3 linked regions of the Homo sapiens genome follow. The protein of the gene in region 3 interacts with the protein of the main gene of each other region in a pairwise test. Each region holds a gene or a part of one and is shown on either strand. Other genes may lie near its edges. The genes, in order: NRXN3, NTM and PAX4.

Evidence for each region.
Region 1: the proteins of PAX4 (region 3) and NRXN3 interact in a two-hybrid assay, tested with the Homo sapiens proteins (one large-scale study listed by BioGRID).
Region 2: the proteins of PAX4 (region 3) and NTM interact in a two-hybrid assay, tested with the Homo sapiens proteins (one large-scale study listed by BioGRID).

What each region holds. Positions count from the first base shown.
Region 1 is NC_000014.9:78,708,809-78,712,461, reverse strand, and holds part of NRXN3 (neurexin 3), read right to left. Parts: exon of another isoform or gene 3,246-3,653; coding exon 2,807-3,245; exon of another isoform or gene 2,502-2,806; intron 1-2,501. UniProt on the Homo sapiens protein: Neuronal cell surface protein that may be involved in cell recognition and cell adhesion. May mediate intracellular signaling. Functions as part of a trans-synaptic complex by binding to cerebellins and postsynaptic GRID1.
Region 2 is NC_000011.10:131,369,058-131,373,415, reverse strand, and holds the start of NTM (neurotrimin isoform 9 precursor), read right to left. Parts: upstream 2,802-4,358; 5' UTR 2,610-2,801; coding exon 2,528-2,609; intron 1-2,527.
Region 3 is NC_000007.14:127,609,719-127,612,547, forward strand, and holds the end of PAX4 (paired box protein Pax-4), read right to left. Parts: intron 2,283-2,829; coding exon 2,227-2,282; intron 1,959-2,226; coding exon 1,817-1,958; intron 1,489-1,816; coding exon 1,346-1,488; 3' UTR 1,268-1,345; coding exon of another isoform or gene 1,134-1,267; 3' UTR 574-1,133; downstream 1-573.

The sequences.
Region 1 (3,653 bases), on a different chromosome or scaffold from region 3:
CCTCCTAGAAGTTTACTCCTAGAGAAATATGCTTTGCCTTTTGTTTTTCAATCTTTCAAACACTTATATAACAACAATAATGTCCTGGCTACCATTTTAACTATTTTATGTGCATTTTTGGACTTGATCCTCAAAACAATATTGGGAGGTAGGAGTTATTATTTTCTCTATCTTACAAAGGAGGAAGTTGAGGTCTCTATCTCTTACTATTTTCTCTGTTGCATAGTTTTCTTTCTTTACCCCTCACAGGTCCACAGGGCTAATCTGATCACCAACTAAAATGGGGAGACATCTATTGCCAAGTAAAGACAATACTAGAATCAATTTAAATTTTAGAGCCTTAAATACAACCTGAGGAAAATCTGTTCTCTGAATGTGTGACCATAACAGTTTTGAATGCACTTAACAAGTTCTAAGACTGACTTGCCCAAGTGAGGAGTGATCATAAAAGTTTTTCTAGATCACTGTTTGTTATATTATTCTTCAAGATTATCAGGGAAGGAGGCACCACATTTAGATACACTTGTTTTTATAACTATCCTTTAGTATAGATTTATAATCTAAAACAAGTTACCAGAAAACATTCTCATGAAAAAATGAAAGTTTAACAGACTGTATTAAAATTTTAGATTATACTGCTTTCATGGGACAATTGTTTGTTTACTCAGTAAGTTTTTAATAGGCTTTGATCAAATTCATCAGTAGTTCAAAAAACTGGCCAGGCCTGGCACAGTGGCTTACTCCTGTAATCCCAGCACTTTGGGAGGCCGAGATGGGTTGATCATCTGAGGTCAGGAGTTCGAGATTGGCCTGGCCAACATGGTGAAACCCTGTCTCTACTAAATAGACAAAAATTAGCTGGGCTTGGTGGAGGGTGCCTGTAATCCCAGCTACTTGGGAGGTAAGGCAGGAGAATCACTTGAACCTGGAAGGTAGAGTTTGCAGTGAGCCGAGACTGCGCCATTGCACTCCAGCCTGGGCAGCAAGAGAGAAACTCTGTCTCAAAAAAAAAAAAAAAAAAAAAAAAGAGAAAAGAATTAGCCAGTGCTTTAGCTCCCAGGTATGAAATTTAAGACTTCTGAAATTCAAACATATTTGTTGAAGTTGGGTCCACTGGTGGTTTAAACAACAAAAACTGTTCCCCTTTGTTCAAAATTGTTTGAAAGAAAAATTTGTATTAGGAACAGACAGAAATGAACAAATGGCAATTTTGTGTGTTTTAGCCTGCCTGAGACACGGGTAAGGTAACTTTTATGCTGTGCCAAGGTCTAGGTTAGTCAGACACAAAACCCGTCCACCGTGACCTAACCTCAGAGATCCCAAACACATGCTCTTAAAAACCAACAGCAGTGTTTTCTTTATAATTCTGGAACAGCTTTCTGACTCTGCTCTTGCTGTCATTTTACTGAAAAGCAGAGAAGGAGAAAGAAAAGAAGAAGAAGAAGTATGGGGGGTGTGGCGGGATTTAGCCTCCAAAGAAATTAATTTTTTGGGTGTTTTTCTGTGTAAAAGGGTAGACACTATTCATTCTTGCTTAACGAGCACATTTAATTTGAAGGCTCTTGGTTCTGATCAGATTTCAGACAACCAGTAAAGATTCCTACTGGGCAATAAAATAGCCAGGGCTGCAATCTGCCACCCATCTGCCCTCTGCAAAGAACCCATCCAGCTCTTCCTAAGGGCAATATTGCTATCTCTGCCGTCAGCCTAGCTTTGGAATTATGCAGAAAAGCCAACCCACCAAAGCTCAGTCACTCCCAGTTTCAGCCTTTTGGGGAACTTATTGCTCTCTCTTACTGGCCAAATGTACCTAGAAAGAAAATATCCAAATAGAGACTTTTTAATGTTCATCAGGAAAGTGAATCTCTATAAATATGGCACATGAAGCCAAGACCCTTCTTGAGTACATCCTACCTAAATGGAGAATCAGGAAATGAGTCTGAAATGGCAAATGCTCTAATTACTGCTCTTGGGAAAATGCCCTTTCTGATAGCACAGAATGTGACCTTCATTGCCACATGGTCCATAGAAAGCTAGGCAGACTGTCCAGGCATTCAAAAACCCCTGACTATTTTGCCCCACCCCCACCCCCACTTTGTTACTATTCCATAGTAGCTATGTACTGCCTGGGGCTAGCTTGTTTGATCTGCAGCTGCAGAAACAAAGCCATTTAAACAAAATGTAAAAGGTTATGAAGAGGAAGAGAGAGTTAGTGAGGTCTGAACAAAGAGTGAAATATAGGCTTTTACACCAAAGGAAGGCTTTAAATTGAATGTATCTTCAGGAAAAATCAATTTGCCTTTTCCTTTCTTGTCATAATTTCTCCATGCAACATGACTCTTGCCAATTACTGAAGGGTGTATTGTTGCATAAATTCTTGCACAGTGAAGTTTATCCTACAAAATAATCACATAATGCAGCATCTGTGATGTCACAATCGGTTTCCATGGTGATGAGGAAAAAGAGAAGCAAAGAATGGGGCAATGGGGGCGGATCACACCAGTGACATGAGAGTTGCTCTGGTAGCAGTGGAAATGCTACTTGTAAAACCATCCTTAGCTCCAGGATCGTAGAGCTATCACTGAGACAATTGCGCAGTGAGTGACAAGAGAGATAAGCGGAGAATGTGAGCCATCTATGAGACAGGTATCTTTTCAGAAACATAATTTTACAACAGCCATTAAAGAGAGTAGCAAAAGAATCAACAAGCATGCAAGGGTGAAAATTAAGAAACATAAAGCCAAAAAACAAACTGAGAAGCTACAGCTTTCGTCTAGTCTCAGTCACACATCCTGCCTCTTCCTACCTGATCTGCCATCTCGCTGAATGTCCACATGGTACCATTCCCCATCATTGGCTTTCTTCTGAGTGGCTTTCACTTTGATGGTGCCAGAGCCCATGTCAAGCAGCAAGTACAGGTTGCCATCGAGGAGTTCCACGGCAAAGAAGTCTACTTTTGTATTCTTCTGGCTCCGAGCATCCTTCCTCTCTTGGGGCTTTCCATGAGTGAAGAGGATCAGGCCATTGGGCTCTGTGGTGCGGAAGTCAAAGGAGATGGAGCCCATACGTTTAGTGTTCCACTTGGGCAAGCTGATGTAAGCCTCTGGGGTCTCAAAGTTGATGGGGTCCAGTGTGGCCACATTCTCACACTTAAACACAACTTCGCCATAGATTTTCATCTTGGTGTCCGCAATCCGGGCCAGGCGAGACAGCTCCAGACGGATGTCATTATTCTTATAAACAACCTGTCAAAAGCCAAACAAAAGTGCCATGTGAATCAATCTTGCAAACAGTATCCATCCATCACTCACTGGGCACCTGGAAAAATGACCCAAAAAGAGGCTTCAGGACATAGCCCAAAACAACATGAGAAACAATGAGACACAGGAACCAAAAAGGTATCTGAAGAAACATCTGATGTGCACACAAGCTCCAAAAAAGCCTCTATATTTCTACAGAATTTCTTTTGTCTCCTGGCCAATTTCTTGTGTTGTCAGAAAGTTATACAACATAAGCTTGCAAATAAAAATCAAGAGAGATCGAGTTGCATGGATTCACATACTTCATACAAAGTGATTTACTGAAGCACCCTTAGTAAAATACCAGAAACAACCTAAATGACCATCAATAGCAGATGGCACAGCGTTATAATG
Region 2 (4,358 bases), on a different chromosome or scaffold from region 3:
TAACCTGCCATTAGCACCAGACACCTTTTCAAGAGGCAGGAGGCACAGGAAGCAGCAGCTCTAGGAAGAACCAGCTTAAAACAAAAACAGAGGAGAAGAAAAAATCGCCTTGGAATGTGTGCTGCATTCTAACTAGTCCCACTGGGTCAATGCAATAGGGGTGGATTATTGCAGGCAAGACCTGGGCTGCCTCAGTAATTCTGCAAGTTTGATAAGAGATAGCTGGCAGACTTCAGCTTCCTTCCTCTGAAAGAGAAAACAGACATCACCTTTGCCACATCTGACTGGCATGCAATATGCGGGTCTTTGGGGGTCGTTCTGCGTTAAAATTGGGCAACCTTGTTCTATTACGACCACTGAAGCCTGTTCAGGGCTGACTGGGTGAGGGTAGCACAAATAAGGCCATCATTCTTTTTGAGAAATTCCGGATTCGGTAGAATGTGATAAGGTCTGAGATAGTGCTGTCGCCACCACCCCTACCCCAAGTTAGGAACAAGACCACAAAGTCAGATGGCACCTTAGAGAAATTGGCACCACCACTTTGCTACTCATCTATTCAGAGATGATTCAAAGTATGAGCAAATATTATGCTTCCCTGCATTTATTCTGATGAAAAAAAAAATCACGTATGCTAATTTATATGTAAATTCAGTATGGCCCTGGGGCTCCTGGCATGCAGCCAGCAGGGCTGTTGATGGTGGAAGTTTGGTCATTGTCTCCAGTTTGATGTTACAGGCAGAAGAGACATGGATCTCGGGACAGATAGAAATGACTGAGGGCTTGGGACCTTCCCTCTCCCTACCTCTGACCCCTCACCCTACCCCTTGCCTGCTTAGTTTTCATTTTTGCTGTCAACCCCCACAGAAACTGCTTTTCCGAAACTGCCCGATCCTGAACTCAGCTTCCCCACTTCATTCTTGTGCACCCAGAACAAGCAGGGGTGCACACACACGCACGCACACACACACACACTGATACTGCTTCATATTATATAAGAGGAGTCAATCGAGGATGCCTCCAAGTTGATTCCCTTCACTCAAACACCCACCAAAGCCCCTAGGGGACAGCAGGGAATCCTGAGGCCCATGCCTCCTGGGGTTGGGTGCAGCAGACGACATCATGGACATCCCTGCAAGATTCACCACCTTGGACTTCCTTATCACCCGACACAGATCCCTCCTGTCCCCACCCCTTGCCTTCTTCATCGAGCCCCAGTCAAGGGTGTACACATTTGATCCTTCCAGCCTGGTCTCTCTGCCCACCTTACGTGGATCCACACTGCAGCCACTGCAACCTATGTCAAGAGGACAGCAGCAATCCCTAAATCCTAACCTCGGAGAAGAGCCAGCAGGACTACAGCTCAGGACTCAGTCCAGATCAGGAGAACTCCATATTGCAGGGGGAGAAGAGGGCGAGGGGGTGGGACTCCCCATCGTTTTTCACCGGGTCAGAGGGAACTTTCCTCTGGGAATACAACTGCATAGGACTGAGCCTCACCTCCCAAGAGAGGGCTCCTCCTCCCGGAGCCCTGCTGGGCCACCCTGGGAAAGTTTCTCAGCTTGTCTCGATCCTTACGAGTTTTAGCTGTGTTTAATATAAAAGAGGCAAACTAGTTACCCCAAAGGACAGGGCAGGTGGGAGCAAGAAGATTAGTGGATAATTCTGTTGCTGGAACGAACAGACGTGAGAGCCGGGATGGGGTGTGGGGAGGCACGGTGCAGCAAATGGACTCAAGGTGGAGGCCGATTCCAAATGCACAGAACACAGCACTGGGGACATCAAAGCTTGCACTCAACTGCAGCCCCCAGGGCTCCCGGCTCAGCCGATAAATAAACAGAAAATTAGCATTCGACTCTTATTGCCTCTCTCCCTTCAACTTCGAAAAGCTTTTTAGAATTTCAGAGCCCCGGCTCCCCTCGCTTCCACACCTCCGACCCCAGCCACAAACACACCCCCGAACACATTTAAAACTAATACAGTTGTCCCCCACTGCTGCAAATTGACTCATCCCTTGCAGCTGGATCGCTGACCAGAACCTCACAGGAAGCACCTGATTCTTTCTAGCCTGCATTTTCCCCTTTGCTCCTTTTAAAAGCTTTGCAAGTTCGCTGGCCGATATTTAAAGTTTCCTCTTGTAATTTCTTCCCAGTCGCATAAGCAACACATTAGCAACCCTGTTGCCCTCCGAATCTGTCATTTCCCCCTGCTTACATGTGTGCTCCGTTGTGTATGTGTGCAAGAATGTGCATGAAGCCAGGGAGCCTTGCACACAAGCACAGTCCTAACAGGAGCACCAAACACATTTTACTTATGCACATACATATTCCCCCATTCCGGTAGCAGCCAGAATCAAATCAATATTCTCACAGCCTAGTCGGGAGAATGAAGTCCCAGCCATGCTGTCTAAACGCTCTCTCCTCCACCTGCAAACAGCGCAGCACAGCCGACTCGGGGAGTCTGCAAATCTTATAAAGCACACTGTACAATTCCTGGGTCTACCGAAGGCAAATCAATAGCAAGCTCTTACCTTGGAAGAGACACAGAGCAGCCAGCCCCGTGAAGATTGCCCAAGAGATAGAATTGTGCATTTTTGGCTGGATGGTTTTCATGATTTTTTTTCTTCTTCTTTTTCTTCTTTTTTGTCAGGTTCGGTTTTTTTCTTTCTTTCTTTCCTGATAGATTGTGTTGCTCTCAAGCTTGTGCAAGGAGATTTAAATCCACTGTTTTGCTGAAGGACACAACAAGAAAGCCGAGGGTGTGAGAGAGTATGACTTCTCCGTAATTATCTCCACTCATACTCTGGCACTGAGACACATTGTACAATCTGGCCCTGGACAGCCCTCCTACAAGCTGCAATCATTGGTTCTAATCCAAGGATTGACAGAGCTACAACACACGCGCGCGGGCACACACACACACACACACGCACACACACTCTCAGGAATCATTTACTGGGCAAATCAGGCTAGCTGATTAAAGAGACAGGAGCCTGGAGAGATAGAATGATAAATGCCACTTTGCCCCTTCTATATTACTTTCATTTTTTAAACTGACAGTCTCTGAGTCTTCTGAGTATCAGAAAATCCCTTTCCCCCTGGCATTCCCTGGCCTCCTGAACTCAGATTCCCTTTGCACTGGAAAAATCCCATAGCCAGCCATGGCTTATGGGAAATTTTAAAGGGACATTTTCATGCTCAGTGAAACTTGTAAAGATGAGGCAATTTTCATTTGTTGGTACCTATTTTCCCCTCCAATGGAAATATCATTCAGTGACAGCTTTTTTTTCTCTCTTTCATCAACCTTTCTACTTAGTTGCTTTGAAAATAGTAAATAACTTTCTATTTTCTCCTCCTGTCACTTCTGTTTCAGAACATCTATGTTACTCCTCTTTTTCATTCACTTTTTAGAAGTCAATTTCCTAAATTCATCCATGTGTATATGATACAATGGAAAGGTACAAAGTACCTGGTATTTGAGAAGAAGCTCTATAGTCTGAAGATGGAGAACCTTCTTCAAAAGAAAACAAAGCAGGAGTTTATTCCCCATGACTTGGTCAATCCACATCCACTAAAGCAATCATAGAAGCATCTGTGATTTAAACTGCAGCGAGAAAGATTCAGGGTAGACATGCGGAGGGGCTTTCTGAGTGTAAACTTTGTGTAGTTCCTCAGACAGTTGAAGACATTAACCTCCTTGGTGATAGGAAAGAATAAAAACCGAACAGAAATAATCTAATGGACATAAATGATTTCTTAAGAGGTCTAATTCTAGGGCCTGGAAGTTTATTCTAATCTTTGGCTTCCCCTTATGAGAAGCAAGTTAGAGGATGTGAACAAAAAATCTAGAAAATGTAGCTCCTGGCTGGGCACTGTGGCTCACGCCTGTAATCCCACAACTTTGGGAGGCCAAGGAAGGCCAGTAGCCTGAGCTCAGGAATTCGAGACCAGCCTGGGCAACATGGTGAAACCCTATCTCTACTAAAAAATTCCTTAAAAATATCTGGGTTTGGTGGTGCGCACCCGTGGTTCCAGCCACTTGGGTGGCTGAGGCAGGAGAATTGCTTGAGCCTGGGAGGCGGAGATCACAGTAAGCCAAGATGGCGCCACTACAATCCAGTCTGGGTGACAGAGCCAGCCCCTGTCTCAAGAAAAAAAAAAAAAAAAAAGAAAAGAAAAAGAAAATGTAGTTTCTCACAGAACCTTCCTTAGCTAATTCTGACACATTCATACCCCTACTATGCCTTGACACACATTTTAAAAATATTCTTCTAGAACTCCACCGCTAATTATTATACTTCCTTGTAACCCCATAAAAATGTTCATGTATTTTCAAACTGCATAGAAGAAAAGTACTCATTG
Region 3 (2,829 bases):
TCATTCTAGAGCTGTGCAGTCCCATAGAACTTTCTGCAATGACTGAAATGCTCGATAGTCCTTACAAGCCACATGTAACTACTGAGCATTTGAAATGTGGCTAATGTGAGTGAAGAACTGCATTCTTCTTTTTTTTTTAATGTGAATTACATTTAAATAGTCACATGTGGTTGGTGGCTACTTATTTAACAGCACAGTTCAGCACAGCACAGTATTTGATAATGAAGAGGCCTCTTGAATGACGTCTTCTGGATCAGTACCTATCCCAGATAGGAGTAAACAATGCCCCCACCTCCCCGCCCGCCGACCAGCATTGCACCATCATTATCCATCGCCTGACTTTCAAAAGGGAAAGAATTTGGAAGGATGAGCCTATCCTCCTTGCTGAATATCCGATTCTTCACCGCCTTTCCCCCATATTCCTCCCTTTCTCCACATCCTGAGACTTCTCAGGAAGGGCCTAGACCTTTATTTGAAGGGACAGAATTGAGAAGGTTTGGAACTTACTGCCAAAAGGACCAAGCAAACATGCCCCTGGAGCATGTATAAATAAAGCACATATAAATGGAAAGCAGAATATGAAAAATGGCATTTCACTCTGTTTGCTGCTATGACAAAAATACATATGCAAATACAAAATACATATGCAAATACAAAATACATATGACAAAATACATATGACAAAAATACATAATTTTCTTAGATTAAGAAGTTACAGTAAATTTTCTTAGATGTGGATATATTATTGTGATTATGTAAGACAAGTTTCTTGTTTTTTGGGGATGCATGCTGGAAGATTTAGGAATAAAATGCCATGATATAATGTCAGTGTGTGTGTGTGTGTGTGTGTGTGCGCGCACGCATGCACGCATACATAATACACATATAGATGCATACATAGAGTAGGTAAATTGATGCATTGACAAATACATTGTTTAGATACATGTATTGCCTACATACATGCATAGATTAGATGGTAGATACATAGATGTAAATAAATGATAGGGCAAATTGTCTATAATTGTTGAATATTAGAGTGGGCATAGGGGTGCTCATAGGGAAAACATGATGGACAACAGAACTACTGCTAATAAAAACAGCTTTTATTACTGCTGAGTGGAGGCCTCTTAAGGCTAGTGTGAGAAGTGGGTGGGTGTTGCTTTACCAGCCCCTCCAATCAGGTGATGCGCCAGAGAGGCATCGAGGCAGGGCCAGGCAACGTCCACACAGGAGGGAGCAATCACAGGAAGGAGGAAGGAGCCACAGTCTGTATGGGCAGGACGGTAAGGACAATGGGCAGGATGGTATTAGATCTTCTCTATGCCATCTCCTTCCCACTCCTGCCTCATTCCAAGCCATACAGTAGTGGGCAGCCAGGCCAGAGCAGGGCCTGAGAGCCACTAAGACTGGCCAGGTGACAGTGGGAGGAAGGGCAAGGAAGGCAAAGCAGTCCTGAGTCCAGGGAATTCGGCTGTGGGGGCAAGTGGCCTGTGGGGACAAATAGAGAGAGCTTGGGGTTATTGCTCCCACCCCACCTCTCAAAGTCACTATGGGAGAGAGGCTGAGACATCAGTTTCCCACCCTGCATATACACACTTGAATCCCAGTCTCACATCCTTTACCTGCTATGGCTGTCAGTGATACCATAGACTCAGGGGTTACTAGTCTCCGTAATTTTGTGGACCATGCAAAGAATGAGGAAAGCTGTATTGAGATTCCTTTGATGACCCCCAATGGAGATCCATGCCCTCCTGGAGGTTGAGTCAGTCGACCCTCCCTACATCCTGCAGGACTGAGGCCTGGCCTGAATTCTTACCCCAGCAGGGCTTGAGACAGGCTTTAGGTGGGGTGTCACTCAGACACCTTTCTGGTGCTGTTGCCCAGCACAGCTGATAGCAGGAGGGACCCAGTGGTTCCAGGGCAGGCAGGGCTGCTGTGGGCACACTGCCAGGGGACTGCTAAAAAAAAAAAGCAAGAGAAGAACCTTAGCTTCCAGTGATGCCTCCTGTAGAGAACGCCGGGACCCCAGAGCTGCCTGCCACCCAAGTAGTATCCTGCACAACTCCAGAGGGCACCATTCACATAGTAGACTTTGGGTTAGTACTTTCTTGACATGAACACTGTGGGGCCCTGGAGAGCCGGAGATCCTGGCTCAGGCCAGAAATGGAAGAGCCCATGAGCCCTTCAGTCTTCCCAGGGCACAGACTCCCCTCTCCTCCCGAGTACCTGTGCAGAGATGATTCCTGGGGCAACCCTTGGTACAGTCAGCCCCTGGGAAGCACCTATAAAATGAGAGTGAATCCACTCAGAAGGAGGAATTGGGGTTAGGGACGGGAGGAGTGTGGTGAGAGGCAGGAAGGTTGGATACAAAGAGGTTCTAGGAAAGTCAGCCACTTCTTGCAGGGGTGTGAAGAGATGGATATTTTAACCCAAAACTGTCCTCTTCCCCAAGACAGGTCCTTGGGAAACTGGAGAAGAATGATTAAATTCCAGTGATGGTACTGGGGACAGTGCAGCCTTAAGATCCGGGACTGTGTGTGCCCAGCATCTAGCACAGGGTCTGGCACTGGGGAGATGCTGAGTAAATATTGGATGGATGGGTGGATGGATGCACAGATTAATGGAAAGATGGATGGATGGATGGATGCATGGGTGCATGGGTGGCTGGATGGATGCATGGGCGGATGCATGGGTGGATGGATGGATGAATGCATGAGCAGATGCATGGATGGATGCATGAATGAATGGGTGGATGGATGGATGGATGGATGGATGGATGGATGGATGGATGGATAAATGGATAGGTAGATAGGTGGGTGAGCAGATGGG